Homo sapiens: one gene and its partner. The protein of the gene in region 1 interacts with the protein of each later gene in a biochemical or structural test. Each region holds a gene or a part of one and is shown on either strand. Other genes may lie near its edges. The genes, in order: KSR2 and PJA2.

Region 1 (16,242 bases):
ATCTGTAGGAAGGATGCCGAGAGCAGGCTGGGCATGCAGATGGGAGAGGAGAACCTCTGGGTCATTTGCCCATGTTTTCAAAGCCCTGACCCCCTGCATGTGACCTGATACAAAAGGGAAATCTGTCCCCAAGCAGAGCAATAGCAGGATTATCTGGGCAGTGAACAGGAAGCCCAGGGCGGCCACAGCCCCTCTGTGTTTCCTGGGTACTACCTGGGCCTTAGTTTTCTTGTAGCTACTATCTATCCAGGCATCTCCCTCCTAGAGGGCCAGAGAGAGGAACTGGAACTTCAAAAACCCTACCTGATCTTACTTTCAAAATCCAAATAGACCTATGAGGATCTCTTCCCCACCTTGGGTGACTCCCAGACTGGTTCATGCTCTGGGGGCCAAACCTGCTTCCAAACCGGGAAGAATGGTGAGATCAGTCATGCTTCCCAGGAGCCTGGCTACAGGAAACCCCTGTGTTTCCCAAAGGGCCCTCCTGAATTGCCTTTCCAACACTCCCAGCTTACTGGGACTAGAGGACTAAAGACCCCGGCTTGGGCTGCTCCTAAGCAGACACTGCTCTTCTGGGGACATCTATGGCTCTTGGCTTGACGACGTGTGTGTGTCTTGGAGGCATTTTATATATGTTTGCCTGAGCCCCAGCCACTCTGGGGTTGCTGGGGATGGCTCTTGTCAATGGACACCTCCCCATCCCAACACAACACTCTGTGTCCCAGCCCTGGGCCTGGACTTGCACCTGTCTTGGCTCTGCCCAGCAGCCTACTGAGTGCCTGAAACCCAACCACTCACTTCTCTTCCATCACACCAGGACTTCTTGGGTCCACAGGCTCCAGTCCTTGTCATGTTCCCTTGTGCCAAGAGACAGGATATGAGGAAGGGAAGAGGCAGCCAGGGTCTACTACCCTGCAGCTGAAATGTCCACAAGAACTGGCACCTTCTCACTCTTGCCTCTCTTGTTTCCAGAATTAACTAAAATGTCCAACCACAGCCTTTGGCAAGGCCTAGCATGATCTCCAACAGCTGATTTTTCCATTCATTCATGAGCACCAGTTTGGGATTAAGGACAGGGCCTGAGTGATCCAGGGGAAAACCCAGCCCTTTGTGGAACAGGGTGCCTTGGGTCCATCCCTGAATCTGAGTCACTTGCTCTTGACTTCTCGATCTTTCCCCACTTCACTACTCTGTCCCCACCTGCATTGGTCTCTGCTGCAGCCAGGCCAGGATCCTGGCCTTCAGTGCCTTCCTGACGCCCCTACCCTGTCCCCTCTACACCGCCCTGACTTGTTGAGAAACCAGCTTTAATTTGCACACATTTAAATCCAGGAAGAACCAAACCGCTGCTTTCCCTGCTGGCTTCCATCTTTATTCGCTGATGAGGTTTTGGGAGGAGGTTATATTCATCTTACGCAGGGAGGAAAAAAAAAGAGGAAAGAGGCTGTATATTTTTACATCATAATTACCAGCCTCACCTGCAACTCATTCTATACAATGACACGACCAAGATTTGTGTGTTTGCCCTTGTCCCATCACAGCTGCACACAGGTGCCCTGTACACATAAGTCACTGACTCAGCAGCGAGTTGTTCCAGTCAGTCTTGCTTTTAGCAAACCGTCATATACATGGGCTTCCCGAGGGGACCAGTCCACAGGGTGAAGATTCACCAGGAAGCCTTGGCTTTGCAGAGAGAAACATCTCAGCTTTCTTTAAAGGGCATGTGGATTTGCACATAAATTTCACCCAACTCTTCCAGGATACAGATTATTCATAAAACCAAGGAGCTTCCTTCTTGGCCCCCTGTGGGAGGACGTGCCCCTTGTGTCCCCATCCCCAGAGCCAAGCTGGAAACCCAAAGTCATTGCTTAGATCCATTTTGTCCTGGTATTCCTTTTACTGATCAAAGAGAAAATTTTCATCTTGCCATGGACCCCCCCATCCTCACCCCATCCACTTGTCTCCACAGCTACCTTGGATTGTCAGTCAATAGAAGCCCTTGACTGATATTGACCACTAGACTTTTGTATCCAGGGAACCTAGTTCTTCCCTTTTTCTCACCTCCCATGCCATATACACACATCATGCCCCTCCCCACAAACACACGAAACCAGCCTTATCTCACCTTCCACCATTCCCATCCCCACCTACAGCTGATCATCAAAGGTACACGGAGGAAGTAGTAGACACGGAGCTCAGGCCAATCATTATCTTGAGAAATCTAAACCCAGGGCTGTCAGGCTATGCCCCATAGGCCATACCCAGCCTGCCAAATGGTTTTTACATGTTTTAATTGAGGAAAAATCAAAAGAATAATATTTCATGACATGAAAATTCTATAACATTCAAATTTCATGTCAATAAACAAAATGTTATTGGAGCACAGTCACCTCTCCATTTACACAACCACGGCTGCTCCTATGCAACTGTGACAGAGCCAGCTATTTGCAACAGAGACGATGTGGCCCACACAGTCAAAAACTTTTACAATCTGGCCCTTTCCTAACTTTGCTAGCCTTTGATAGAGAGGATTGGATATGGCTGTCAGGGGAGGAACAGGAGCCTTTGATAGAGAGGGTTGGATATGGCTCTCAGGGGAGGAACAGGAAGTTGGAGGGGGAGAGAACTTGTTTCAGCGGAAGAAGGCCAGCTTGCCCCAAGATGCAGCGGGCTGCCTCCGGAAGTAGAGAACTCCCTGTCCTTGGATAGGGTGGAGCAGATGTTGACTGCTTGGCCTGTGTGATATGGAGGCAATTCAGGCCCTGAAGGCTGGACCAACTCCCTGGACTTTAAAACTCTTCGTTTGCTAAGGGGGGCCATAATAACAAAATGTCACACACTGAGTGGCTTAAACAACACGAATTTATTCCTCACAATTCTTGAGGCTGGAAGTCCCAAGATCAAGGTGTCAGCAGGGTTGGTTTCTGGTGAGGCCTCTTTCTTTGGCTTGCAGACAGCTGCCCTCTGATCGTGACCTCACGTGGCCTTTCCTCTGTGACTGCACATCCCCAGTATCTCCTCCTCTTCTGATAAAGACAACAATCTTATTAGATTAGGGTTCCAACGCTCTGTGATTTTATTCCCATCCCCGGCTTTCTTTCCCCACACTGGTTCTCAATCTTGAGTCCCGAAATATGCCCTCCCTATCCTCATCCTGTGCCTACCTTCACTTCACCCATCCATCCCCTGCAGGCTGGTCTTGTTCCACTGTGCCACCATATCCCCAAGCCCCCCTCACCTCCGTGAGGCTCCTAGGACTGCTGCAGCAAACCACCACCCACTGGGGCCTACAACAACAGATGTATCATCTCTCACCCATCTGGATGCCAGAAGTCCAAAATCAAAGTGTTAGCAGGGCCATGTTCCCCCTGAAATCTGTAAGGGAATCCTTCCTGGCGGCTTCTGAATTCCTGGTGCTTTCCTGGTCATCATTGGCATTCCTTGGCTTGCAGCTGTGTCAGTCCAATCCCTGCCCTCATCATCTCTCTGTGTGTCCCTATCTTCATATGGCCATCTTCTTATAAGGACACGAGTCACATTGGATTAAGGGCCCACCCTATTTCAGTATGACCTCATCTTAACTAATTATATCTGCAAAGACCCTCTCTCCAAATGAAGTCTCATTCTGAGGTACTAGGAATGAGGACTTCAACATGTCTTTTTTTTTTTTTTTTTTTTTTTGTTGGGGACACCACAACTTATAACACCCTCTAAGACATTTTCTCTTGTGCCTTGACTGGTCCTCCACTGTAGAACCCAGGTGCCCTTGAAGATAGATTCCCCAGAATTCCTGGTCTACAAGGTCAGGCTGTTGCTGTCATGCTTACCAAGCTTGCCCCAATCAACACGTCCCATCACTGAATTCCAACAGCTCTGGATCTCAGTTCTGTGGCTGTATGGGAACAGCCTGTGTGTAAGTGGCTTGTCTGTAGCGGACTGTCACTTGACCCCTGAATGTGCCTCATGACCCTATCCAAAGCAGTTGGTGACACAGCATCTGATTTTATCTATACTCTTGTTCATTGACAAAGGAGTGGATTTTGATGAGCTACATTTTGCTGTTTCCTTTTTTGGCTTTGCCTGTGATGTGGGGAAGTTCCTAGGCAGACTCATGTGGCCACTCTCCCTGGCTCCCAGCCTCACCTCCTCCCGTACCACCTCACCCTCACCTGCACACACCTGCAAGGGAATCACTTTGAACTCCAAGGGGAGTGACAGGCAGCAAATGTCAGTCTGGGTCCTGGAATGTGGAGCCGCAGTGAACCTCTGTCCTCTCTGGTCAGTGCCTGACTATGATATTAACCCAAATCCCAGACTCCCTTCTCGAGGCCCTGCAATCCATACCCATTCTGTTACCAGTTTAGTTTTGAAACCAGTAGTGGGGCAGGAGGTTGATGGAAAATCTGCGGTCCCAGTGACCTCCTGGACTTGTCTTAGTAGTGCCTGGCACATAGTAAGTGCTCAAGAAATGTTTACAGAATGCAGACAGAGAGGTTTGCTGGGTAAGAGTAAGACCCTGGCACAGGGAGTTAGAAGGGCACCATTGGCAGGGCTGGATGGTATTGGGATTCCCCTTTGCCAGACCATGTTGTGGGTGCCATATCAACCCCAATGAGTTTGTTTGTTAGGTTTGTTGTTGTGGTTTAGAGTTAGAGTCTTGCTCTGTCACCCAGGCTGGAGTACAGCGTGATCATAGCTCACTGCAGCCTCGAACTCCTGGCCACAAGCAATCCTCCCACCTTAGCCTCTCAAGTTGCTGGTACTACAGGTGCACACCATCATGCCTGGCTAATTTTTTATTTGTTGTACAGACAGGGTCTTGCTATGTTGCCCGCGCTGGTCTTGAACTCCTGGTCTCAAGCAATCCCCCTGCTTCAGCCTCCCAAAGCACTGGGATTACAGGGCTAAGCCATTGTGCTGAGCCAGTTTGCCAGGTTTAATATCTGTGACGTATGAAGCGACCCATTGAGTCAGGTGGCCCAGGATGTCTAGGAGGCAGAGTAACAATCCACCCTGAACAGCCCTCATTCACAGAGCACTTACTACGTGCCAGGCTGGAATTCCTATGATGGTTTGGGGAGATCAGTAGTCTTATTCTCGTTCCAATGGGGCAACTGTGGTACAGGGACAGAAACCAGCCTCCAAATTGCAGACCCAGCATTTTAAAAACGAGTCTTTGGGCTCATCCATTCCCAGGAACCCACCTCCAGGTCAAGGGGTTCATGTCCAGCTGCTCATGGGGATGTTACAATCCCAGCCTCTGAGACTTATTGGCAACTTGGAACCAGGAAAGAGAGAGAGGAAAAGCAGGAAGTTGTGGAAGGGAGGGTGCAGGGGCTGGCAGGGACCATACTGGGAGTTTGCACGGAAGCTTGAACTTATGTTCTCAAACTGACAGGCTGCCAGCAGCAGCCCGGATTTCCAGGAAATGTACATCTGGGTTGGCAGAGTCCCTCCTGGGTCCCTCCAGTATCCCTGCTCCAGGCTTCCTATCCCCTCCGTCTCTCCTGCTGGATGTTGCACTGTGGTCCCGTGTTCCTGAGAGGCGTACATCAGTGAGTGCTCTTCCCTCTCAGGGGTGGGAAAGGGCCCTTCCTTCCCACTCATTGGGATCATGCAGCTCCCATTTCCTAACACCAAGAATATGAAGGATTCATCTCATGGGGTTGAGAATGGCTGTCCTCCTTCCACTGAGGACTGAGCTGGAGGAGATGGACTCTGTCTAGAATGTGCCTGATCTAAATAAGACCTTGTTTCCCAAGCATGTCCCATAGACCTTTCATTCCATGGAAAACTCGCCGGATTTGCATTATTGAAAGGGTCCTGGGACAAGCATGCATTGGAAATGCTTAGGTAAAATGAAACTAATTTCTTGATTGCAGGACTTATCAGAACTTTTAAGACACTATTGTGTGGTTGAATCTCTAAATGCCTGATAGGAGGCTGTTCTTCCCAAGCTTTCCCAGGCTTGTTTCTGAATCTCCAACAAGGTCAACCTCTGTGAATGAGACTTGATACCTTACCTGGTACTGAAGGAGGCAATGTCAATGTACTGGCCCACAGAAAAGAGCTGACCACTAGCATTCATAGACACTGCTAGGAGATGAGAAAGGTAGCTTAGAGCCCGATTCCATCCATGTGGACAGTGGTTCCATGAACAAGAACACCACATCTGGCTGATGGTGTCTTCCAATGGAGGGGTCAAATCTGCTGTGTGTTGGTGGCTTCTCCAACATACCATGGCTTGGAGGCCAATGTGAAAAGTATATAAGATGTAACACCCTCAGAAGGGTTAAGTTTTCACCTGAGTTTTCATCTTCAACCAAGTCATTGGGATGGTGATCTAGAAGGACCTCTAAGATCTAGAAGGATAAAGATCTGGTCCAAGGAGTACAAATATGTAATGGATCTACCACCAGTGTCCCCTGCTGTACTCTTGGCAGACATCACTAATCCATCACAGCATGCCTTCCCACTGATCACAGATGTAGCTTCAGGGCATTCGAGTTACCACTTAAGATGGATATGAGTGACCCTCCCTTATCTCACTCTTCTCCTTTCACAGAAGCAGGATCTGAGGCCCAGAGAGGGAAGCTATAATAAACTCCCCTAAGTCAGGTCCCTTCTAAGAGGCAGAGGTAGGTTTAGAACTCAGGCCTCAGAAACTTCCAGAAGCCAAGCCATTTGGGCTGTAGTTGGTGGACAGTCTATCAGCGCTCTGCAGATGTTTCTTCTCAGTTAGGGAACTTGGAAAATGCAGAAAGAAAGATTCTGTCTCTAAGACTCTGTGTATGATCCTACTCGGTAATCTGCCTGCTTGGAGAAAAATCATTTATCTTCTGGGACGGCTTCACCACAAGGCCTGAATGCTATGCCCAGTCTAGTAACAGCTGGGCTGGAAGTCACGGCATATGGGGGCCTTAAGGAATAACAGTGTGCGTGGTGGTGTGCAGGAGAGCTGCAAGGGCTTTTCTTTCTTGAGGAGGTTTGTAAAATTTCTGCTGTTCAGTCTGGGCTTCTGGGAAGTCAGGGGGTGCTGCATATAAAGGGCAGGAAAAGGAGCCTGACTCCAATTGCTCTTTGGTTTCTTCCCTGAATGGAAGGCTCAAAATCAAGTTTCCACCCAGATAAGATCTTGAGGTCCTAGTGGACCACCAGCTCTACTCCTGAGCTCTTGAAATACCTCTAATCACCAGCTCGGTGGCTGAGAGTACCTTCTTGTCCACTGCCTCTTCTTTTCCTTCTCGTCTTCACTTATCCCCCATCCAACTTCTGCCCGATAATATCTCCCCTGTATTGTAAACTGAGGAGAAAGTTGCACAATTGTAGAGATGAAAAATAGCTGCCATGTATTTAGCTTAAATTAGCTCAGAAGAAAGGCTCCCTCCCTCCATTGAGCGGGCAGCACTTGTTTATGCCAACATGCTATTTGCATCGCGCCTTCTTAAATTTGAAAGTCTAATGATTAAAAACAAATCTTAGTTTTTCTTTTCCACCACTTAAAAAAAAAAAACCAGCTTGGCTAGTTCTTCTAGTTTAAAAATACCCTGACCTCCAGCACTACAGTGAGAATTTTGGAAAGGCTGGTACCAGGATATCAGGAGGAAATAAATACAGGCCAACAATAACCAGAGGCCTTTTCTGAGTGGTGGGCGACAGGATGAACAAGGTAGAAGAGAGGTCTTTGTGTCCTCACACAGATGCTGGCATTCTGGGTTTGTCTGGAATTCAGTGAACCTCTGTCCTCTCTGACAGAGATTTCTTCACCAACCATTCATTCAGTGGGTGATTTGTTGAGCATCTACTATGTGTTAGACCCTGGGCATTCAGTGATGAGTGATACAATGTCTCACCTGTTCTGAAGCCTAAAGCCCAATGGGGAAGAGAGACAAGAAGCAAGTCAACCACAAATATATAAATTTGCAACTCATGTAGATCTATGGAAAGAAAACTCACGGGGGACCAGAAACATGGGAGAGGGTATACTGTGGGAGAGCTGCTGACAAAGGTCTTTCTGAGGAGGTGACATTTAAGTCAAGATCTAAAGGAAGAGAAGGATAAAGAGATGTTCATTCTAAGCCAGGGTTTCTCAACCTCAGTACTGTTGAGCTATTTGGGGCCAGATAATTCTTTGAGGTGGCGACTGTCCTGGGCATTGGAGGATGTTAAGCAGCTTCCTCAACTCTCCCCACAAGATACCAGTAGCACCTGGTACTGGTGACATCCAAAAACATCCCCAGACACACCCTGACTTTGCTGTCTGGAATCAATCCTCATAAAGCCCCAAGCCTTGGAGCACAGAGGCTGGAAGCCCATATGGTGGCATGTCAGGCATGGTGTCACCTGAGCTTCTCTGACCCCCACTTCTGATATGGCATCCAGTTTGGAGTCTCTGTTCTCCATGAGCTCCCATAGCTGTCCCATATTCCACAAGGCATTGCTTCTGGGCCACGGTCCTCTAGTTCCAGCATAGCCCTATTTTTGGGTATGTTGGTGGATTTCAAAAGCCTCCAGTTGACATCCAAAGTGTGACATCCAAAACCATCTCCAGACATTGCCAGATGTCCCCTGAGTTGTCTCCAGGCCACGCGACTAGGATTCAAATCCAGCATCCTGCCATCTGCAACCTTCCATGGGAGAAAGGAAATCAGAGGAGAACAGGAAAACACAAGGAGGGGACTCCTTAAGTGAACATTGCAGGGAAATAGGTTTTTAAAGCACTAGTTAGCATCACCAGTGGTTTGAAGGCTGTCTAGGTAAGGAGAATGTGGACTTGCCTTTCACCGTCTGCACGGACAGGGGCTGAAATCTCCAGTCATTCTCTCCATCCTTCCACAGCCCTTCTAAGAAGCAGATCCTCTTGCTGAGCTGAAATCTTGAGACTTGCATCCGGCAATCTTGGTGTTGCTTTCTGAGGCTACTCAGGGAAAGCCCTTCTGTATTCCCCAGGAAGGAAAGTCTCCCAGATAGTGAAGGGCCTTTTCTACCTTCCTTGCAATTCCCAGTTCACTGTGAAGAAGAGAGTCAGGCCGGGTTAGAATGGCTGTCTCTGGTAGCAATGAAGCAACAACATAGACAGTCTGGACAAGATGTGGCAGTTCTGTCCAGTCCCGTGTGACTGATTTGGGCATGGAGACAGGCAGTGGGTGAGGATGGCCTCTGTAGGTCCAGCTGTTTTACCCCTAGAATCAAATCCCTGGAGCTTCCGGCAGTCCCAGGATTGGGAAGGGTAACAGAGAGGACGAGTCGGGCACTGCAAAAGACCAGATCTTGGAAAATTGCTTTGGGAATTGGGACACCTTCCAAGAAGACAGTTGAGTTGGCTGGGGCTCTGCCCTAGATGGGGTCAACCTCTCCCCAACACAGCCCTGCCCAGGTTGGGGCATTGGCAGCTTAAGTGCGTCCTGGACAACAAATGTAATGTATTGGTCCTGTAAGATTCTAGCCATTTTCCTCTGCTTATTTTTCTACATGTGTTACAAGTAATAATGTTTAGATGGGTACATATGAACTTGTGTAAGTTCAAGTAACTGCTATGTAGCTACAGCATGGGCATCAAGGTACTCTAAGGTACTTGCCCTGCCACACCGAGGCCCCCTGCCCCGGCCCCCTTTCCCTCCTAGCCAGCCTTCTAGGGAGCACTGCACACCCTGCCCCTTCAAAGCTATCTGGACAGTCCTGGCTCGACTGGAGCATTAAGGGAGGGGCTGTCCTTGGTCAGGCTTCTGCCCAACTGTGTGATGCATAAATCTTTGCCTGGCTCCTTCTTCCTTCTTTTCGGAAGTCTATCTCCTCCTGAGGGCCTCTGCGGTCCTAACCTATCAAGGAATATCATAGATTGTACTCCCCACCCCATCAAAACACACCCTGACTTTGCGTCTGGAATCAATCCTCATAAAGCCCCAAGGCTTGGAGCACAGAGGCCAGAAGCCCATATGGTGGCATGTCAGGCATGCTGTCACATGAGCTTCTCTGACTCCACTTCCAAGATGGCATCCAATTTGGAGTCTCTGTTCTCCATGAGCTCCCATAGCTGTCCCATATTCCACAAGGCACTGCTTCTGGGCCCCGGTCCTCTAGTTTCCTCATAGCCCTATTTTTGGGTACATTGGTGGATTTCAAATGCCTACAGTTGAGCAGCCGAAGGATTCTAAGAAAATTTTGCTTGTATTTCAAAGGCTCATGTCCCCAGCCCCATTCACTACACCCTCAGCAGAGCCCAGCGTGGAGCAACCTTGTCCCTTCATTCCCCAAATCTTCATTTTATATAGTCATTTAGTAAATATTTGTTAAGTGCCTCCTGTGATTCTGGAAAAAATGGAGAAAAGTGGGTGCTGCCTTCAGGGTACTAGGAGTCCGATGAAGAGAGGGAGGAGTTCCAGTAGGGTCCCGAGGCCCCACAGGAGCTCCCAACCCAGAGAAAGACCCTCCAGGAAGGATTCTCAGAGGAGGAGACTTCTGAACCCTGTCTTGAAATTTGAGTAGAATGGTAGGGAACGGTGTGTCAGACAGAAGGAACAGCCTATGTGTGGACTCAGAGGCAAGATCATGATTTATTGAGGGTAACTGCAAGTGGCTAAAATCCTGCCCCCTGGCACTTGCCTGCCTTTCCCTGCTTTCCCCAAAGCCTGATTTTGGGACCCTGGAGTCTCCATCTCCAAACAGAGGGTGCCCTGGCTCAGATGTGGAGACCTTGACTTCTTTCCCCAGCATGCTCTGGTTCCTACTGTTAGCCTTGGTGTCCTGTGGGGGAAGATGTCTGAGGAGAGTTTTGTGCTTGCTGGAGTCAGACCAGTACTCAGGCCACCTCAGGCCTGCTCTGCATCCCTCTCTGGCTCTACAGACCTCTCTCTCTCTCTCTCTCTCTCTCTCTCTCTCTCTCTGTCTGTCTGTCTCTGTGTCTGTCTCTGTCTCTGCCTGCCTCCACACAGTGAAGGATGTGTCTCTATTTCTTAGTGCCCTGCATTGGGTCCTGAAGTCCATGGGCATCTTGGCTATAGATGGGTTGGCCATGAGCCCTTCTCTCTAATGCATTTTTCATTCCTGTTCCTCTTTTGCTTCACTTTCCCTCTATCGACTCTTGCGACCTGTGTCTCTGATGTCTCTGGGGCCCCCAGTTCTGTCTTGCCATACCAAAAAACCTTCTTCAGCAAAAAACCTCTTTCTGGGACAGTTCATATCACTCTATGAATAGGCCCCTGAAGTGTTGAGGTCAAGGACATGTGTGAACGTGGAAATGTATTTATGGAAAGACCCTACACTGAGGGTCTCTAACTAAACATTTCAGGTATGATGGGCAAAATGCTGGTTTGTTACAGAAATGACTGAAGAAGACCTAGGGGCCATAGTGGGCCACAGGCCAAGCCTGCAATACAGCCTGAAGTGTGGGAAAGAATGTATCAGTCCTGTTGATGGAGTGGTGTGTTTGCTGTCTCTATAAATATGTCAGGGTTTGAAAGACAGAAAACAAAGCATCTTTGCTGACCGCCAGACTCCCAGGGTATATGTGGCTACTGCAAATTAGCGAGGCTTGTTTATCTGCTTCAACTTGACTCAATTTGCATTTCTTGAGCCACTGTCTATTGTGGATAATGATTTCATCAACACTTTCTCAGCATCAGCAGCCCCTCCAGAGTATTCCTTGAATTTTCTTAGCTTTGTGCAACCCACGAGCACTTAATATATCACTAACCCTTGAGTTTATTGGAGGGAGTGAATGAAATAATGAATGTCAATAACGTTACGCAATACCTGGCACACAGTAGGTGCTTCATCAATGTGGCTTTTCTTCTCAATCACCCAAATGAACCTCCCCCAGAATCCCACCTCTAGGGGGACATTCCTGAAAAATAAGGGACTAGAATAGCGAGGTGGTGGGTGTTACCCATTTATTTAGATATTTGTGTCCTGGTGAACATGGGGAGGGATGCCCAAGTGTCATAAGGACACCCCCTCCCCCCGTCTACAAGGCAGAGGTCTCTTAGGATGTGAGAGAGTCTCTGGCAAGACCAGCCCCCACCCCACCAAGGCCCTCATAGAAACAGAACATTCTTCCTCCCTATCCCAAAGCAGAAGTTGACTGGGGCAGATAAGGCAAGTCACATTACATCTGTGCCCTTGACCATACCTGGACCAGGCAGAGAAGATCCCAGACTTAGGTGGTCAACGTTTCCACCCCAAGCCTCTCATTTCTCGCTCTCTTTGAGACTTGATCTTGTACCAGGATCCACTCGACAGACTTAACGCATGATTAATTTGATTGATTACTCTTGAAGTTACTGACCTTAGGAAAATTCCTCAATTGTAAAAAGGCTTTCTCTATATGTAAATTATGCTGTTATCTTTTTCTATACACAAAGTATATAGACCTATAAATATTATACATATATATTATATATATAAAGACTAATTCTTGTACAGACCAACGCGGACCGATGGTCCATATTCTTTTCTCCATGTTTGTTTGTGTCGACTGTTGCAGAGTGAGTTGATGTAAGAAGGTGGTTTCATGTTTTCTTTTGGGGGGCCACTTCTTTCTTTTCCTTTCCGTTTCTATCTCTGTCTGTCTCCGTCTCTGTCTCTCTCTTTCTCACTTGTTGCCAATGTCTTGTTGCTGAGAAGGAACACTCTATTCAGATGCCATCCAGGAAAGAAAGGCCAGATGGATGGAGGGTCCACTGTGTATATTTGTACAGAATCATTTATAAAGTTTTCTACACTTCTAAAAAAAGTATTTCTAACTTGGGCTGTTGGACAGTTTGTGTGCCTCTGAGCCAGCAAGCCTGTTGTTTCTTGTGTTTAGTGCAATGTTTAGTGAGAAACCAATGTCTGAATTATTTATGCCAATAAAAAATTTGAGAATTACTGCATTGCACTACTGCCAAGACAGGTCTGAATTCTATTGTTGTCTGTTGTACAGAAAGAAGCTTGAATTATGACATTGGCCATTGTATCAGCCAGCTATCACCACGGTAATGCTGTGTAACAAGCCTCCCCCAAACTCCATAGCTTACAACAGCTAACATTTATCCTCGTGCTCGTGGGTCTGCGATTCTAGGTTGGGTTTACCTAAGAGGCTCCTCTTTAGGCTTCAGGTCAAGTTCAAGTCAGCTCCACATGTCTCCCTGTTTCAGGGGCCAGGCTGAAGAAGAAACTCCCTGGGGCATGCTCTTCCCATGAAAGATCATCAGAACATATGAGCCAAACAAGGCTGGGCATGATGGCTTAAGCCTGTAATCCCAGCACTTGGGGAGGCTGAGGCAGGCAGATTGCTTTAGCCCAGGAGTTTGAGACCAACCTGGGCAACATGGCGAAACCTCATCTCTACAAAAAAAAAAAAAAAAATTAGCCAGGTATGGCAGCAGTCACCTGTAGTCCCAGCTACTCAGGAAGCAGAAGTGGGAGGATCACTTGAGCCTGGGAAGTTGAGGCTTCAGTGAGCCATGATTGTGCCACTGCACTTCAGCCTGGGTGACAGAGCAAGACCCTGTCTCAAAAAAAAAAAAAAAAAAAAAAAAAAGCCAACCAGCCTGTAGAGACACATTCATGACATCATCTCAAACCATATGCACTAACATTTCATTGGGTCAAGCAAGTCAAATAACTGAGCCTTTCAATAGGACAGTATTGTAAACTCCACCCAGAGTGGGAGGGGGAAGGAAGTGAATGTTTCCTGCACCGTAATCCAAGTTATCACAGTCTGGCCAAGTATTCTTCCAGCCAGCCCGGCAAAAATGCATTCTCTCCCCTAGGGACAAATGCAGAAATTCGTCCGTGAATTCGTCGTGTGAATGCAGAAATATACACGGATGTGCACACAACTACAGCTCTCCACACTGAGCATGTGATCTGTGCCCAGATTAATCCCCACAACCACACAATTCCATTTTATAGATGTGAAGGCTGGGTGCAGAGGGATGAAGTAACTGGCCCACCCCAAGTTCAGAACCCAAAACTCATAGCCCTCTTGGGGCCACACACAGCATGATGGGCTTCTAAGTACCTTGGATTTTTAAAAGCCACTTTATAAAGTGCTTTTATGAAACAAGATCTCACCTGACCTGGAAAACCAGTGAGGCTGGGACTATTCAACTCATTCGACAGCAGAATAACTGAAGATGGAGAAACAGGCTATCCGGCAAATCTGACTGGAACTCCCAGGCCCCTCCCTTGAGGAGCTGCTGCTGAGAGATGGAAGAACTGGCCTCATCTGTCCTGGTAAGTTCTTCTCAGCATGCGCTGGAAGGGAGCAGACTGACAGGCTGGAGTCTAATTCTGTTAAATAGCACTGCCATATGCAAGCTATATTGCCCTGGCCAGGTCACTTAGCTGCTCTGAGCCTCCACTGTCTCATCTGTAAATGGGCATAATTATTGTACCTGTAGTACCTACCTCCCAGCGTTATGAGGCTTAGATGAATTAACATCAGTACTTGGAGCAGTGACCAGCACCCAGTAAGTGTTCTTAAATACATGAGTTGCTAGTTTGAATATTTATTGCTAGGCTGGGCGTGGTGGTTCACACCTATAATCCCAGCACTTTGGGAGGCCGAGGCAGGTGGGTCACTTGAACTTAGGAGGAGTTCAAGACTAGCCTGAGCAACATGGTGAAACCTTGTTTCTACTAAAAATACAAAAAAATTAGCCAGGCATGGTGGTGGGTGCCTGTGGTCCCAGCTGCTTGGTAGGCTGAGGCAAGAGGATCTCTTGAGCCTGGGAGGTGGAGGTTGCAGTGAGCCAAGATCGCATCACTGCACTCCAGCCTTGGCGACAGAGTGAGACTGTCTCAAAAAAAAAAAAAAAGAAAAAAGAAAAAAGAAAAGTATGACTGTGGTTCATTTCTAACATTAGTGCCTAAGGGCAAACTCCACGGTGAGTGACCGTCTGCACCCTAGAATGCAAATCTCTGCTGAGTTAACCCAGATCTGTCTCACCCTCAATCTCTCTCTCAGAGAACAGCAATTGGTATCTAGCACTGTAAACTTTTCGACACACCTTCACAAGCATGATTTCTTCCCACTTACCACGTTCAGATGGGGTGGGTGTATGAGTTGGCCCATTTTACACAAGGGGAAACTGAGGTTGCAAAAAGTGAAAGTCTCCTACAGTATCTGCATGTCTGTCCTGGGCTATCTCACTCAGACCAGCTGGGTGACCCAACTGGGCAATGACATCAACTGTCAGAACCTCAGTTTTTTTTTACTGTAGAATTGGGATAATAACTACATTCATTTCAGAGAGTTATGGTCAGGATTAAAAGCAGGTAAAACATGTAGCACAATTCCTGGCATAAACAATCAATACACATTAGCTATTTCAAGCCCAGATCTGACATTAATCTCTGGGAGAGTGTTGACGTGGGGAGGCGGTGTGAAACAATACCAGAACCTTCCATCCTCCTCTCTCCTTTTGCAGGCATAAGAGAAGGGGAAGAGTCTTTCCTGGGGCCTGGAACTAATTGATTATCCTGGTTCTGGCTTGTGGTCTTCTGTGGCCTTGGGGTCGCCATCAATCAGGCACAGCAGGTGCTGAGCTGAGTGAGGGAAACCTTGCGAGTAATCGGAACTAAACAGCTCATTAACCTCTGTGCACAGGCTTCAGGGCAAGTGCCTGGTAACCAGAAACACAGGCACAGATGAGGTGCCTGCCCAGCTGCCTGGGTAGCAGGGACAAGGCCTCTGAAACCCCTCTAGTCCTGGACTCCTCTTCACCTTTGCCCAGAATGAGACTCTCCAGAGCCCACCCACATCTCCCATCTCCCATCATTCAGTTCCCAGGAACAGTGCTAAGCACATTACATTTGTCATCTCACTTAACCCTTACCATGGTCCCATGCAGCAAATGCTATATTGTTCTTGTTATGCAGATGAAGCTCCTGAGGCTCAGAGAGGTTAAGTGACTTGCTCAGCATCACACAGTGGGAAGTGTGGAGCCAAGATTCATACCCAGACCATTTGAATCTGGGGCCCATGCTCTGAACTGCAATTCAGTTTTTTTGTTTGTTTTGTTTTGTTTGAGACAGGGCCTCACTCTGTTGCCCAGGCTGGAGTGCCGTGGTACCATCTCAGCTCACTGCAGCCTCAACCTCCCGAGCTCAGACGATCCTCCCACCTTAGCCTCCCAGGAAGCTGGGACTACAGGTGCGTGCCACCATGCCCAGCTAATTTTGTTTATTTTTTGTAAGACAGAGGTCTCTCTGTGTTACTCAGGCTGGTCTTGACCTCCTGGGCTCAAGTGATCCTCC
Region 2 (16,242 bases), on another chromosome or scaffold:
ACGCACATTTCAGCCAGGCACTGTGGCTCATGCCTGTAATCCCAGCACTTTGGGTGGCCAAGGCAGGTGGATCACGTGGTCAGGAGTTTGAGACCAGCCTGACCAATATGGTGAAACCCTGTCTCTACTAAAAATACAAAAATTAGCCGGGCATGGTGGCACACGCCTACAGTCCCAGCTACTGGGAGGCTGAGGCAGGAGAATCACTTGAACCCGTGAGGTGGAAGTTGCAGTGAGCCGAGATCAAGCCCCTGCACTCCAGCCTGGGCGACAGAGCAAGACTCGCCCTCAAAAAAAAAAAAGTTAAAACACTGTTAATTAGCACCTATGTTTTTGCCAGTATGTTAAGATTATTATTATTTTTATATTCCTTTTCTCTTTAGCTGTTGCTAACAGCCTCTTTTGATTCAGATACTTTAAAGGATCATAACTTGTTACTGAATTTATAAATTATATGGGTGAATGTGGGTTTGTACTCTTACGTATGTTAATATATATCTGTCTGTGATTAGACAGGTAACATATAAATTAAACTCATTTGCAGAGCTATTGCATTAATGATGAGCAATTAGCAGTAGCTCAAGTGTTTAAATAAATAAGGTGTTTAAATAAAAACTTAACCAAACTTTCAAAAAAACCACAGGTTGCAACTTCTCAAATAGTACTTTTCAAATAGTAAATAAATGCATTAATTTCAAAACAGAAGTTCTTTTTGTATTTGTTCCATGATAAATTGTAGTTTTTCCTGATTGAAAATAGGTTCTTATTTGGGATTAAATTATCTGATCAACTGACTATTGCAAAGAATAAATACATCATTATTTACACACATTAATTATTGTTATAAGCCATTACACATTTTTAAAAAATGAAGTTTGTATTCTTACAGTTACCTTTTAGCAATTCCAGGGCTAAAGGAACTTTACTGCTTGACAGAGAAGCAATGATAGCACAGTGTAGTAGACTCCCAAATAGTTTGGTTACATACCTGAGTCAGTACTTCTGATATTTTTGTTTGTTTACTTACAAATTATGTATGTGTTGTTGTCATTGACAGTCTTAAGGATGATATATACTTAGGCAAGGTTTATCAAGAGCAGATGTAAATCTGTATTTCACATAGCCATTTTGGTATTTCTGAGAGTTTTTGATTGGCTTGTCAAATTGTGTTGTATTTTTCTTGTTTTTATTTATTTTTGGGACGGGATCTCACTTTGTCACCCAGGCCTGGAGTGCAGTGGCATGATCTCGGCTCACTGCAGCCTCCACCTCCTGGGCTCAAGCAATCCTCCCACCACAGCCTCCTGAGGGACTAGAGGTGTGCACCACCACGCCTGGCTAATTTTTGTATTTCTTGCAGAGACAGACTTTCACCATGTTGGCCAGGTTGTTCTCGAATTCCTGAGCTCAAACTGATTTGCTCGCCTTGGCCTGCCAAAGTGCTGTAATCTAAGGCGGATCACAGGCATTTGCCACCATGCTGGCTACATCACATTGTATTTTTCTAAGTTTTATTATAAGACTTCACTAGGAGGAGCAGAAGTATCAGTTTTGCTATTTTTGTGCTTTTATTAATATATTGTTCAATTCATTGTTTCTTTGTAGGAATCTTCTGCGGCTTGTCCATAGTGTGAATAAAAACTAAATCACATCTATAATTCTACTGAACTGGTCACACAGACGCTGCCATATATGTCACAGTACACTGAAAAGGAGCCAGCAGGTAAGGAAAGTCAGTTCTTCTACATTGAGTACTTCTTGTTTTTTCCTCTGGGTACCTTGAGTACCAGTAAGTGACATATGATCATCTGACCTGTGGTCTTACTAAAAGGCTGGTTTTGATCCATATATTGAATATTTGTAAAGCTTAGTTTCTAATTTTTGATAGGTAAAAATAGAAATTCTGGTATTTTCTTTCCATACCCATTTAGCTTGGAAAGCTTTATGCTTTCCACTTCGGAGACTATTCTTTTGGTAGAATTGTTAAGGGCATTGGTTCTGGAGTCATACTTTTGGATTATTAGACAAGTTATCCAACACTTAATTTTAACTTTAATTTTTCAATTTTTAAAATAGAATACAATATCCACCTCAAGATTACTGATGGGATTAAATAAGTGTAACACTTGATATTATTTATACTCGATATGTGCGTGTATTATAAATACATGTTTGTTTCTGTTTCCTTCTTGGAAGTGATTATATTTCTTATTTTAATACAACTAAGAAATTATGTAACTGTTTCATTCATTCATTTATTCATTTTTTTTTTTTTTTTGAGATGGAGTTTCGAACTGTCACCCAAGCTGGAGTGCAGTGGCACAGTCTTGGCTCACTGCAACCTCCGCCTCCTGGGTTCAAGTGATTCTCATGCCTCAGCTTCCTGAGTAGCTGGAATTATGGGCATGTGCCACCACGTCTGGCTAATTTTTGTATTTTTAGTAGAGACGGGGTTTCGCCATGTTGGCTAGGCTGATCTCGAACTCCTGGCCTCAAGTGATCCGACTGCCTCATCCTCCCAAAGTACCGGGATTACAGGCATGAGCCACCATGCCCAGCAACTGTTGCATTTATTGACTATACCATATGCTGTGAGAAAATATTTTGTTTAGTTGCTGTGTAGTACATGTAATGTATAATTGACTAAGCAGACTTACACTTAATATATATATGTGTGTGTATAATAATGTACTACTTAGTGAAAGTTGCTGCTGTTTACTACTGTATACCCCTCAGTCAACAAAACTTAATTGTCAAGTCATGTAAATGTTGATGGCTTTTCTTACCATAACATATACCATTTATTGGTAGTTTTGAAGGCAGGGTAGTATGTGTTTGACCTGGCTCATTGCTGTTTTCTTTTGGATAGTTTTATCTGACGTTAATCTTTGGAACATATTTATTGTGATCTAGTTGATTCTTCATGGTACAGATACCATTTAAAGAGGTTACTTGTTATCTTTGACATAAATGTTTTCATTCTTAAAGTAATTGAAACCATCATATCATAATGCTAGTAATTGATTCATCAAATATGTATTGAGCACTTATATTAATATAATATATAAGGTACTTAATTTGGAAGATCTCCCATAAAGAGCTTTGGCAGTATAATAATTTGGCATATGAAAAATATTTTTTGATAGGTTTCATTATAAAAATCTGAAATACCTTAAAGAAACCAAATTTTAAAACATATTTTTTGAAGGGAAAAGGCCACTAACTCTTATTATATAGTACTTCATATTTAATTTTCTAGTGTGTGAAGAATAATGTTTTATAGTACTAGTAAGGTACACTTCATGTTCAGAAGCATATGATTTGATAAATAATAAAATATAAACTGAAGTAGTTTTCCCCAACAGGTTGCAAGAATAAAGCTCATTGCTGTTCCTGTTTTAATTTTTTAACTTTTTTTTCAGCAATGGACCAAGAATCTGGTAAGGCTGTCTGGCCCAAACCAGCAGGAGGGTATCAGACAATTACAGGCAGGAGATATGGAAGAAGACATGCTTATGTCAGTTTTAAACCATGTATGACCAGACATGAAAGAAGCTTAGGTCGGGCTGGTGATGACTATGAAGTGTTGGAACTAGATGATGTTCCAAAGGAAAATTCCTCAGGTGTGTAACATTTAATTATTTAAAGGTTATTAATAGTTATATAGGAATTGATCTTATAATTAAATTTTTGGGTGGGTATTATGCATGTCTGTGAGTGTAAATGCAGCACACTTCCTATCAAGAAATTCTATTTTGAAATTCTTATTGAATTTAATATTAATGGTGTATATATTTAAACATTGTAGAAGAAAATAGAATACAGCCAATCATTAAAATATAACCACACTCTCATAGTAGTGATTACGTTGTCATAACCTCCAGCCAAAGGAAATCATCTTTGAATCAAAAAGATATATTTTGAAATTTTTAAAAATGTGGATCAAGTAGAGATATTTTTTCCCTGCATATAATATTTAAATAACTTTTCTTCTTCTTCTTTTTTTTTTTTTGAGATGGAGTCACGTTCTGTTGCCCAGGATGGACTGCAGTAGTGCATCTTGGCTGACTGCAACCTCCATCTCCCAGGTTCAAACAATTCTTGTGCCTCAGCCTCCTTAGTAGCTGGGATTACAGGTGTTTGTCACTGCACCCAGCTAATTTTTGTATTTTTAGTAGAGACAGGGTTTCACCACGTTGGCCAGGCTGATCTCAAACTCCTGACCTCTCAAGTGATCCACCTGTCTTGGCTGGCTTCCCAAAGTGCTGGGATTACAGGTGTGAGTCACCATGCCTGGCGTTCTTTTTTTTTTTTTTTTTTTGAGATGGAATCTTACTTTGTCATCCAGGCTGGTGTGCAGTGACGTGATCTGGGCTCCCTGCAGCCTCCACCTCCTGGGTTCAAGTGGTTCTCCTGCCTCAGCCTCCCAAGTAGCTGGGACTACAGGCATGCGCCTCCACGCCTAATTTTTGTATTTTTTGGTAGAGATGGGGTTTTGCCATGTTGCCCAGGCTGGTCTCGAACTCCTGACCTCAAGTGGTCCGTCCAACTCAGCCTCCCAAAGTGCTGGGATTACAGACATGGGCCATTGTGCCCGGCCAACTTTTCTTCTTTTAATTTTATCCTAAATTTAACTTGGCTTGTTTATTTTTTCATCATTTTACAAAATCCAAAGGACAAGGAAGGCTTATTCAATTAAAATTTCTTAGTTATTCAATGGTTTTGAAAAAGTATTTTGCAGCTATCCATGTACCATAATTGCACATTTTTGGACTGGATTTGTCTTCTTCCTCTTGTTCTAAGCAAACTTGACAAGACATTTCTAGATTATTTTTGCTGTCATATGTAAGAATCTGAATTACTAGCTAGGGTCATCCCATTGAAGAACCCTTCGTTCCCAGCTACTTGGGAGGCTGAGGCAGGAGAATGGTGTGAACCTGGGAGGCGGAGCTTGCAGTGAGCCGAGATCATGCCACTGCACTCCAGCCTGGGCCACAGAGCAAGACTCCGTCTCAAAAAAAAAAAAAAAAAAAAAAAAAGAACCCTTCGTACCATATATCAAAGAACCCTTCGTACCATATATCATGGCCGAACTTCAGTTATTTTACAATTCATGAATTTTTATTCCAGCAAATCTCAAATGTCTTCATTTTTTTTATTAGTGGTGATGCAAGATAGTTATGCTTAAAGTAATTTATAGATATGATTTTACTCATGTTTCAGAATTCTCACAATTATGACAAGAATCAACATATTGATCTCTTTGTTGTTTTTCAGTCATAACTATAACACATCTAAAGTAAACTTATTACAAATGTATTACAACAATTCAATTTATAATCTGTCGAGATACTGAGATATAATTTTGTGAATTGCCAACAAAACACAATAGGGTCTAATTTCTCTTAAATCTGTAACTATAGTTATTATATCTGTCATAAGTACTTTTGAAGGTTTTTTGTTTTGTTGTTGTTTTTACCTGCATATAATAAAGAAGGTAAGTTTGGAAATCACTGGGAAGCAGATTGGTTACCCTAGACTCCACTTACGAGAGGCTTCCCATTGTATAACCTCTCAAGAGCTTCTCCTTTATATGTCTTGCAGAAGGCATTAGATATTAGGATTTAGATAGAAAACTGCCAAAGCCATGTGAGGGAGATGATAGTGAAAGGCTGTACATTGACATAAATGAACTCATAGAGTAATCAGTCTGCATTCTCAGTTAAGGAGCATAGAAGTGCTTGGTAAATAAATTTACTCATGTATTCAAGTAGTAATAATTGGTATGATTTCCACTTAAGTGATAGTTATTACATAAAATTTTATCTAAGTTAATCCTTTAAAATATGTTTTCTTTTGTTTTTTATGAAGGTTCCAGTCCTTTGGATCAAGTTGATTCTTCTTTACCCAGTGAACCTATATTTGAAAAAAGTGAAACAGAAATTCCCACTTGTGGTTCAGCATTGAATCAAACCACTGAGAGCAGTCAATCCTTTGTTGCAGTACATCACAGTGAGGAAGGCAGGGATACCTTAGGAAGCAGTACAAATCTTCATAATCACTCTGAGGGAGAGTATATTCCAGGAGCTTGTAGTGCTTCAAGTGTCCAAAATGGAATTGCATTGGTTCATACAGACTCTTATGATCCAGATGGCAAACATGGAGAAGATAATGACCATCTTCAACTTTCTGCAGAAGTCGTGGAAGGTAGTAGATACCAGGAATCATTAGGCAATACAGTATTTGAGTTGGAAAACAGAGAGGCAGAGGCATACACTGGTCTTTCACCACCAGTTCCCTCATTTAACTGTGAAGTAAGAGATGAGTTTGAAGAGTTAGATTCTGTACCATTAGTGAAAAGTTCTGCTGGTGATACTGAGTTTGTCCATCAGAATAGCCAGGAAATTCAGAGGTCTTCTCAAGATGAAATGGTTAGTACGAAACAACAAAATAATACTAGCCAGGAAAGACAGACAGAACATTCACCTGAAGATGCAGCCTGTGGTCCAGGGCATATTTGTAGTGAACAAAATACCAATGATAGGGAAAAGAACCATGGAAGTTCTCCTGAACAGGTAGTGAGGCCAAAAGTTAGAAAACTGATAAGTTCAAGCCAGGTGGACCAAGAAACAGGTTTTAATAGGCATGAGGCGAAACAAAGAAGTGTTCAAAGATGGAGAGAGGCTTTGGAAGTTGAGGAAAGTGGCTCAGATGACCTCTTAATAAAATGTGAAGAATATGATGGAGAGCATGACTGTATGTTCTTGGATCCACCATACTCAAGAGTTATTACACAAAGGGAAACAGAAAATAACCAAATGACATCAGAAAGTGGAGCCACAGCAGGAAGGCAAGAGGTGGATAACACCTTTTGGAATGGCTGTGGAGATTATTACCAACTCTATGACAAAGATGAAGATAGGTAAGGTCACATCCAGTACTTTTTCCGATTGTGTAGTAAATGAAGTGGTTTCTTTCTAGAACCATGTTTGATGGCTGGGCTATTTGATATGATCAGGGAATTAGACATTTTGACTTACCAAATATTTTTATTTACTGAATGCTAACCATACATGCAAACTACTCATTAGAATTTTTCACAAAAAAATGTTTTTGAGGTTTTTAGTAGTTTACAGAAGTAAGTTCAGATAATGATTATTATTATAAAGGGATAGAGATGCTAGTTCATGGTATTTCAATTAATAAAATGTAAAATAAACATTTGTTGTATTTTTTAAAAACCTACATTAAGCCAGTCTGGGTTTAAAAAGTGATTAATATCACAAATTATTGATTGGTAATACTTCATTAACATTGCCAGTAGTGACTAATATCACTTGTTTCCCTCTTTATCTGTTCTTCCTGTGGCTCTTCCTATCACTAAGTTTATTTTTTACTTATTTTTTCTTAGCATTCAATTCTCATTAACAACTCTGTGTGGTAGATTCCATTATTTCCCTCATTTGTAAATAAGGAAACTGAGGCACAGAGCATTATATAACTTCCTAAGGTCACAGAGCAACTTAATGGTAGAGCTGGACTTTGAGTACCTAACTGGGTATTCCAGAGACTGTTCACCACTATTCTTTGCTATTTTCAACAGAACATAAAACTTATAATAAGCATTCTGATTGCTCTTACAAACCCGTATCTTTTTTTTCCAAACCATAAGACAACAGAAAAAGAAAAAAATGGAGAATTTCTTTGTTCAGTTGCTGAATTTCCATTACCCCAGTGTCCAGATTTTCATGAGTCCTTGTAAGCTAGTTGCATCCCTGACAGTGCTCAATTACAGTGCAATTGCAAGATTTTATTAGCTAGTGGAAATAATTGTGTGGTTTTTTTTTAGTTAGAAAGTACTATAAAGGAAGAAATTTACCATTTTGAATATGAATGCATTTTAATTCATGTCATAAAACAATTCATTTGATTTTCTTTGGACATATGAATTAAGCTACTATAATACAGATTGTGTAATTTATTATAGAAAATATTTAAAATATAATTTCTGCTGCTCTGTCAAAGTCTGTAAACTTTAAGGGTTAGTAAGTAATTTTTGTATGATATACTGTTTTTAAGCTAAAGGTAAAGTTTTTTTCAGTTCAAGCCCACAGTGTTTTATTCAGTATCCACACTTCTAAAAACAGAAATTGGCCACAAAGCCTGACCTGATGTTAACTTCCTGGATAAGCAGATCTGGATCTGAATTGAAATGAGGGTATTTTTTCAAATATTTGTATATTTTACTGCAGAAATATAGTTATGTTTGATTACTGTGTGTGGCCTGGACCATGTTGGGGTTTGTTAAGTAGTAGTTCTAAATCTGGGAAATATATATCAAAATTCCAAAACACATTTAGCCCTAAGATTTTGAAATAGATTGCAAGTCTCTAATATTATACCTCTAGGTTACTATTTTTAAAAAAAGACAAAACTTACAGTCTTTGATAATTTATTTTTTTGAAAGTGTAAGGTGCTTGTATTTTTTTTCCCCCAGTTACACTTTTTCTTCTTTAAGGAGAATCATTTAATTTGGCTATACCTTTGTCATTTTGGGCAAAATAAATACTTCTCTTCTGCTTGCTTTTTATAGTCAGTTATAATGTCTTATGATGAAGTTGATGAAATTGTTACATTGTTTGCCAACCCCTAGAGAAAGGTAGTCTTCCTGGCTCCTTGATTTTAAATTGATTTTCTTTGTTTTGGGGGTGGTCAGTGGTGGAAGTGTATTCTTTGCCTTGAAGGACCCTGGACTTTTCATAGTTATAAGGTATTTTCTTAGTTATTTGTAATTCTTATTCTTATTTTTAATTTTTTTCTTAAGTGATGTCAATATTCTGAACAATGATAGTTTTTTTTTTTTTTTTTTACAAACAATATATAGATGGGAAAAAACATTTACAGTTAATAGAAACTGTCCTTTTAAATTGCTAGTAATGTATTGACTACAGAGCCTGTGGTTAGGGTATGCCAAAATGATGGAACTACTTTAGGATCATTGTTTAAGACACATTGAAATGCTTAAAAGTTTCTTGTTTCGTTTTGTTTTAAAGAATCATAGAATAAATTCTAAAGGATAATGGTTCTGCCTAGGACTGTACTTATATTTTTATCCATAGCCTTAAGATATGTTTTACGATCTCAAAGTGTCTGTACAGTTTTCTGTACAGATTATTCTATTTCTGAACAGAAACTCTGTTTCTATGCTGCTGTGTCCTGTTCCTCTACCCTAATTCCCTGCAAAGGATTATAGTTGCCAGGGTGCCTTTTTAATATGGTGCCAGCTAAAGGTTGGAATTTAATAGCTGTACACTCCTATTTAGTTTCATTTTGCCCTTGTTCATCTCCCTGATGTTTCATTGTCATCCTCCCTAGTTCTTGTATTTGTAGATTGGAGAGATGGTGATGCTAGTCTTCTCAGGTTTTGGATGGAAAGTATAAGAGCTGCTGCTTAATTTGGGCCTGTGAACTTTGAGTTTTTTTGTAAAGCTTAAAAAGTTGATATACTTGAAAAGTTTTTTTTTGTCATGCTTATAATAGCCAAAGTAGAACTCATCAAGAATATAACTAAAGTTCATTGTGGCATTTTTATTTTTTTATTTTTTATTTATTTATTTCGAGACAGAGTTTCTCTCTGTTGCCCAGGCTGGAGTGCAGTGGCGTGATCTCGGCTCGCTGCAACCTCTGCCTCCTAGGTTCAAGTGATTCTTCTGCCTCAGCCTTCTGAATAACTGGGACCACAGGCATGCCATCATGCCCAGCTAATTTTTGTATTTTTAGTAGAGATGGGGTTTCACCATGTTGGTCATGCTGGTCTTGAACCTGTGACCTCAAGTGATCCACCCGCCTCAGCCTCCCAGAGTGTCAAGATTACAGGCGTGAGCCACTGCACCCGGCCAGCATTTTTAGATATAGGAATTTTGGCTACTTTTTAAAAATATGAATTATATATTCTTTTTAAGTAGAAAAGTATTTTAATGAATTCATGATTGCCTTCTTCCCTGAAAAATTCTAAATGATCATTTAATCACATCTGAAATGTTACACTCTGTGGGATAAACATTGCAGCCAGTAGCATTGCTCTGAGCTGTTTGACAGGTACTGAGCACCACCTTATTAAATTAGGATTCCAAGGGGAATTTTAATAGGCAGCATATAATTACCAGACTTAGAATTAGACCAAAGAGCTAAGGTTAATACCCTGCTCTTTTGAAATATACCCTGAGAAGTTTAGTAACTGTTTGAGGACAAGATCTTGAGTTTAAAAAAAACCTTTCAGCAATACTAGCATATCTTAACCTTGGGCCTAACTGCTCTGAAGAGAGGCATGCCATCTACTGTCTGTTCCTTACTTATAGCATTTGAGGTTTCTTGCAGAATTTTTGTGGCCTTAGGACTTAACTTTGCTTAAAATTTAAAAACCTTACTTAAGGTAAAATGTTGGGACAACTTACTTTGTTGATGATGTTGGGAAATAAAATGATTGTTAGCCATTTAGTTGACTTCAATATGATATATTAAAGGATTTGTTGAAATCTTAAGTGCCAGACTTTGTTCCAGGTGCCCTGTTAATACAAATCATAATGGTCCCTGTTCCCACAAGGTTCACTAGCTTTATGAAGAAGACAAAATATACGTATTTATTATTGTGAGGCTGAATTAAGCGCCTTTCCTGTTCCGTGTAGGTTACCTGAGAGCCACAAAGAAAGAGTTTGTCTGAGAACTTGGTACTACCCCCAACAAATAAAACATCTATATGCAGCCAAGGCACAGATCTTAAAGCATATGTGCTGACATTTTAGCAAACCTTTTTATCTTGTTTTCAAGTTCATAGAAGTTTGGAAGGAGCACATTAGGTATAAATGTGTTTGTTCTGCAGATATGCTAGGGAGTTCATGGGATTACAATAACCTGATACTAAGGAAAAAGACCAGAAAGTGACAAAAAGCAGGCACAATGCAAAAATCATAGCCATCTTAATGAAATTAAGCAGACTTATATATTTGGACATAATCCATTCATATCACTGTATTACATTACAGTTCAGTGTTAATAGTGGTAAAAAGTTCCAGAATGTTTAGATTATGTCAGATAACAAAATATTTAAAATTTCACTTTTTCCTAGGCTCCTGTAGTTGAGTTTCTTGTGGCTGTGATAAATGCCAGGAAGAACAAAGTAACAAGTACCTTGGGGAATTATGGAATGAGAGATTACTTTTGGTTGGTTTTATGTTTCCATAGCTTATTTCTGCCTAGGATTTGTACATAAATTTTGTCTATAATTTCATTCTGTATATCAAGTTTTTTTAGTTCACAATTGAATGTGTAGAGTGTAACATTTGAGTAAATTATAGTTGTCTGCTTTTTAAATACAACTCTTAGGTGCTAAAAGGGATCAGTACCAGTGAAGGATCATATGAAGATCAAAGTAGTACTTAATTTAGTTTTTACTTTGAGAACTTTTAAATGTGTCATTCACCCGCTTTTAAAATCTAGAACAAATGGATCTTCACTGTTCCATGATCATTTTTGTGTCCTATTTGTTCTGTTGCTTACTCCTTAAAAAGTGATTTTTAAATCTTTTCCCTTTTTTCCTTCCATGTACTCCTGTCACTCCTAATGGTTAGCTTCGTTTCTTATTTTCCTGTAGAAGTTAAAAATATGTAAATGTGAATTTTCTTATTTTCCTCTTCTCCATATTAGGGGATAGTAGTATTTATTTGTATTTTTAATTTCCTCTTCAATGAAGAGAGGTAGCCCCTCTCATTCTGTGCCTCTAGTTATTTCTGACACTTCATCTAATTGTCCTTACTCACAGGTTGCTTCCCTCTGTCTCTCAACCTTGAGTTTTTCTCAATCTTGAAGAAAACCTTTACTTTTTCTTGCTCTGTTATTTGCCTGTTTGTGTTTTCTTTTCTACTGCTGAATTTTAAGAAAAAGTTTTCCATACCCACTGTCTCTATTCTGTCACTATCCACTCTTCTTACTGCCTTGAAATCTAATTCCTAATATTATTTCTGTATTCTTTTTTATTGAGACAGTCTCGCTTTGTCACCTAGGCTGGAGTGCAGCGGTGCAATCTCAGCTCACTGCAACCTCCACCTCCTGGGTTCAAGCAATTCTCCTGCCTCAGCCTCCTGAGTAGCTGGGACTACAGGTGTGCACCACCATGCCTGGCTAATTTTTTTTTCTTTCTTTCTTTTTTTTTTTTTTTTTTTTTGAGACGGAGTGTTGCTCTAGTTGCCAAGGCTGGAGTGCAATGGTACCATCTTGGCTCACCACAACCTCCACCTCCCAGGTTCAAGCGATTCTCCTGCCTCAGCCTCCTGAGTAGCTGGGATTACAGGCATGCGCCACCACACCCAGCTAATTTTGTATTTTTAGTAGAGACCAGTTTTCTCCATGTTGCTTAGGCTGGTCTCGAGCTCCCGACCTCAGGTGATTCACCTGCCTCAACCTCCCAAAGTGCTGGGATTACAGGCATGAGCCACTGCACCCGGCCCTATATTCTTTAATGTCAGTGGTGACCTCCTGATTTCCACATCCATTTGTCTTTTCTCAGTACCCATTTTCTTTGATTTCTCTGCACTATTATGAAAAATAATTGCAATGTTAAAGAAGCAGCTGTGTTGTAGTGAGCTGCACTGAGTAAACAAGAAGTCTAGTTCATGAAATAATTGAAAAACAAAAGAAGCGATTTTATACAGGAAGGTCTTGAAAGAAATAGAGTCTGATCTGTGTTTGGAAGTGGGGAAAAGGTGAAGTGATTATAAAGATATTCCTGATGGCAAGAATGCCCACTTTGAGGACACTGTTTGAAATAGAGCATTCTTGAGTTGGATGCAAGAAAGTACTGGGATCAGATAGCAGTAAATTATAAGTGTTATTCAAAGACATTTAACTTTTTATTCTATAGGTCACTATTTCCAAAGTGGGTAAAATATATTAAGTGGTACACAATGTTTTTAATTTAATCATTATGTATTTATGTTAATGGAAATTAAGAAAATATAGGTAGCACATCAAATTCAGGACTTAATGGCTATTGCTTATCCTAACTAAATGTATTTGAGTTTAAAAAAATGTTAAAAAAAGACTCGCTAACAGTTATTGATGGCTCATTATTTATCAGGCATTGTGAAAATGTTTTATATATATTAACTCACTTACCCTTTACATGAACCCAGTGAACTATTAAATACTGTTGTTGTATTCACCTGATATGTGAGGCTAAAAAGGCATAGAGAGGTTTTCATAGCTAATAAGTGGTGGGTTTAACTCCAGGCAAGCTGACCAGGACCTGTATTCTCAACTATCGTACCTTAAGACAGAGGGTTAATGTGCAACTGCAGCAAAAATTGTGAGAGTGATAGGCAAATGGCTTGTTTGTGAAACTAAAGCAGTAGCATTAGAAAAAAGAGCTGTTGAAGGTTTTTTGGAGTAATACTATAAACATACTGTTTGATATGTAAATTGAAGTGATGGTAGTATTCAGAATGCATTTTGAGGGAGTGGAATTAAATTTAGGAACACCAATTAATAATTGACTATATAGGTCTAATTTGGAGAAAAGCATTTGAACTAGGGTTTTACATTTTAGGAGAAACGGAGAAAAAGGAGCTAAGACTACAAGAGCCATTGTGCAGAGAAAGAATGGAAAGTAAGAAAGGATTTGAATGTGGGGAGTTTGTGAAGAGTCAAAAAATAAGTGTTTGCAGAATGAGAGCATGGTGATAGCATTAAAAGATAACAAATCAAGATAGGGATTCATCTGACAGATTAATTTTATAATAGAATTTTTGACAAGGAAGGTGAAAAATCTTAAAATGCTTAGAGGGTAGTTAGTGATTGCGAAAGCTTAGTGTGATGGTTGGGGCTGGCTGGGGATATGCATTTAAAAGTTGTCTCCTTAGCATTGAGGGTTAGGTATCATGAGTAATAATGATATAGGCGTGGGGTCTGCAAACCTTTTCTTAAAGGAGCTGATGGTAAATATTTTAGGCTTTGGTGACTAAGAGGCAAAATTAAAGATAAACATGTAAAAACCATTTTTAGCTCACACACCATTAAAAAACAGGCAGCAGAGTCAGGTTTGAACCCAAGCCTGTAGTAGTTTGCCAATCCATAACATAGGCTTCTTGATTATTGATCATAGACATTCCTCTTGTATTGAAGTTTAGAGATATTCCATGAGTTATTTGATTAATATGGAAAAGTGAGGACTTTTTAATGTTATCTCTTTGGACAGGATCATATTCTGAGTGAAAATTTTTTTTTAAAAACTGAGCTTCTCTTTTATATATGTTAAGAATTGCCACAAATTTATATAGAAATCTTACCCTAATTGTTAAAGACATTAAAATAGGAGTTGGTAATTTAGCTTTGAATTTTAGAAGGTTCTTACTCAAGGAAACTTAGGTCAATAAGCTCCTTTAAAACTACTTTCTGTGTTGGATTTTAATACTTATATAAGTCTAGAAATTGTTTATATTAGATTATTCTTTGGGTCACAGAAAATTGTACAGCATACAAGGAACTTTGGCTTAGACCCAGCTGAAAGAACACCTTTTAGTTGCTGTGCCTAGGGTTTATAGCTTTCCTTCTCCGGGATGTTAATGCCCTGCCATCCATTGCTTACTGGAAATTGGCAGTTGATTTTATATCTTTGCTTCTAGTAAACTTCTCAGAGCTTAGATTAGTGCTACTGTTTGTTAATATCATCTTGATCTTTTGAGTGCATCTGTTAATAAAGGAAATCACTAACTGCGTATTGACATAATAATCATCATTAAAAAATGTAATTTCCTACCAATTATCACTTCCTTTCAAAAATGTAAACTAAAATTGTTATTTTTGATTTTCCAAGTCTAGTGAACGTAGAGAGATCTTTGAGGAGATTCTTAACCAAAATGGTTGATATGGTTGGAGGGGGCATTTAAGACTTATTTTCAACATTGATAAGTAATATTTTAGCCTTTGGTAGCATAAGAGGACTAATTCTTTAAAAACTAAGAGTAGTTAATTGTAACCAAGTTGGCTAAATGTAATCAAAAGTAATTTTCTGTGCTGCTTTTTTTTTTTTTTTTTTTTTTTGAGAGGGAGTTTCACTCCTGTTGCCCAGGCTGGAGTGCGATGGCACAATCTCTGCTCACTGCAACCTCCACCTCCCAAGTTCAAGCTGAACTCCTGCCTCAGCCTCCCAAGTAGCTGGGATTACAGGCGTGCAGCGCCACGCCCAGCTAATTTTGTATTTTTAGTAGAGATGGAGTTTCTCTATGTTGGTCAGGCTGCTCTCGAACTCCCGACCTCAGGTGATCTGCCCACCTCAGCCTCCCAAAGTGCTGGGATTTATAGGTGTGAGCCACCATGCCCGGCCTGAACTGAAATTTATTTTGTATTCACAGTGCTACCTAAGGACAGTAAAGTTTTGCCAGTACTGCTTTTTATGCATTTGAATGTCACTTCTTGAAAAGTTCTTTGGGAAAAAGGAAGGAAAAAGACAGTTAACTTTTTATTACATGGTAATAGTAGAAATTTATTCATAGAAAATATGTCATTAGTTGTCAGTATATAATTTGAAAGTTGTTTTAGTCATGTTAGATATGCAGTAAGTCTACTTACATTTATTCCAGGTAGCATTTAAGATTACCAAATTGTATTTAAAAATTTATTTAGAAATGTGTCTAAAATATGACAAGCCCCTATCTAGGTACCATGGATGTAGTGTAAGAAAAAGTAAAGTGATATATTCCATAACTTGCCATATGCCATATTCTTTTCAAAGAGTCACACTCTACTGCATGCATTTATTTGTTTAATAGTCTGAAGATTGAATTAGCACCTGACAAAGCATATGTGGCATCGACACTCCACTCTATACTATGATGTCTGGTGTATTAGTTCATCCTTGCATTGCTATAAACAAACACCTGAGACTGGGTAATTTATAAAGAAAAGAGGTTTAATTGGTTCATAGTTCAGCAGGCTGTACAGGAAGCATAGTGGCTTCTGCTTCTTGGGGGTGCCTCAGGAAGCTTCCAATCATGGTGGAATGCAGAGCAGGAACAAGGCTTCTCACTTGGCAGGAGCAGGTGTAAGAAAGAATGAGGGGGGAGGTGCCACACACTTTTAAACAACCAGATCTGGTGAAAACTCAGTATCACAAGAACAGTACCAAGGGGATAATGCTAAACTCTTATGAAGGATACACCCCCATGATGCAGTCACCTCCCACCAGGCCCC

What was found.
Region 2: the proteins of KSR2 (region 1) and PJA2 form a complex in vitro, tested with the Homo sapiens proteins (one study listed by BioGRID).

Annotation. Positions count from the first base shown.
Region 1 is NC_000012.12:117,449,676-117,465,917, reverse strand, and holds the end of KSR2 (kinase suppressor of Ras 2), read left to right. Parts: 3' UTR 1-12,906; downstream 12,907-16,242. UniProt on the Homo sapiens protein: Location-regulated scaffold connecting MEK to RAF. Has very low protein kinase activity and can phosphorylate MAP2K1 at several Ser and Thr residues with very low efficiency (in vitro).
Region 2 is NC_000005.10:109,368,884-109,385,125, reverse strand, and holds part of PJA2 (E3 ubiquitin-protein ligase Praja-2), read left to right. Parts: intron 1-1,605; 5' UTR 1,606-1,692; coding exon 1,693-1,723; intron 1,724-3,422; coding exon 3,423-3,623; intron 3,624-5,871; coding exon 5,872-6,922; intron 6,923-16,242.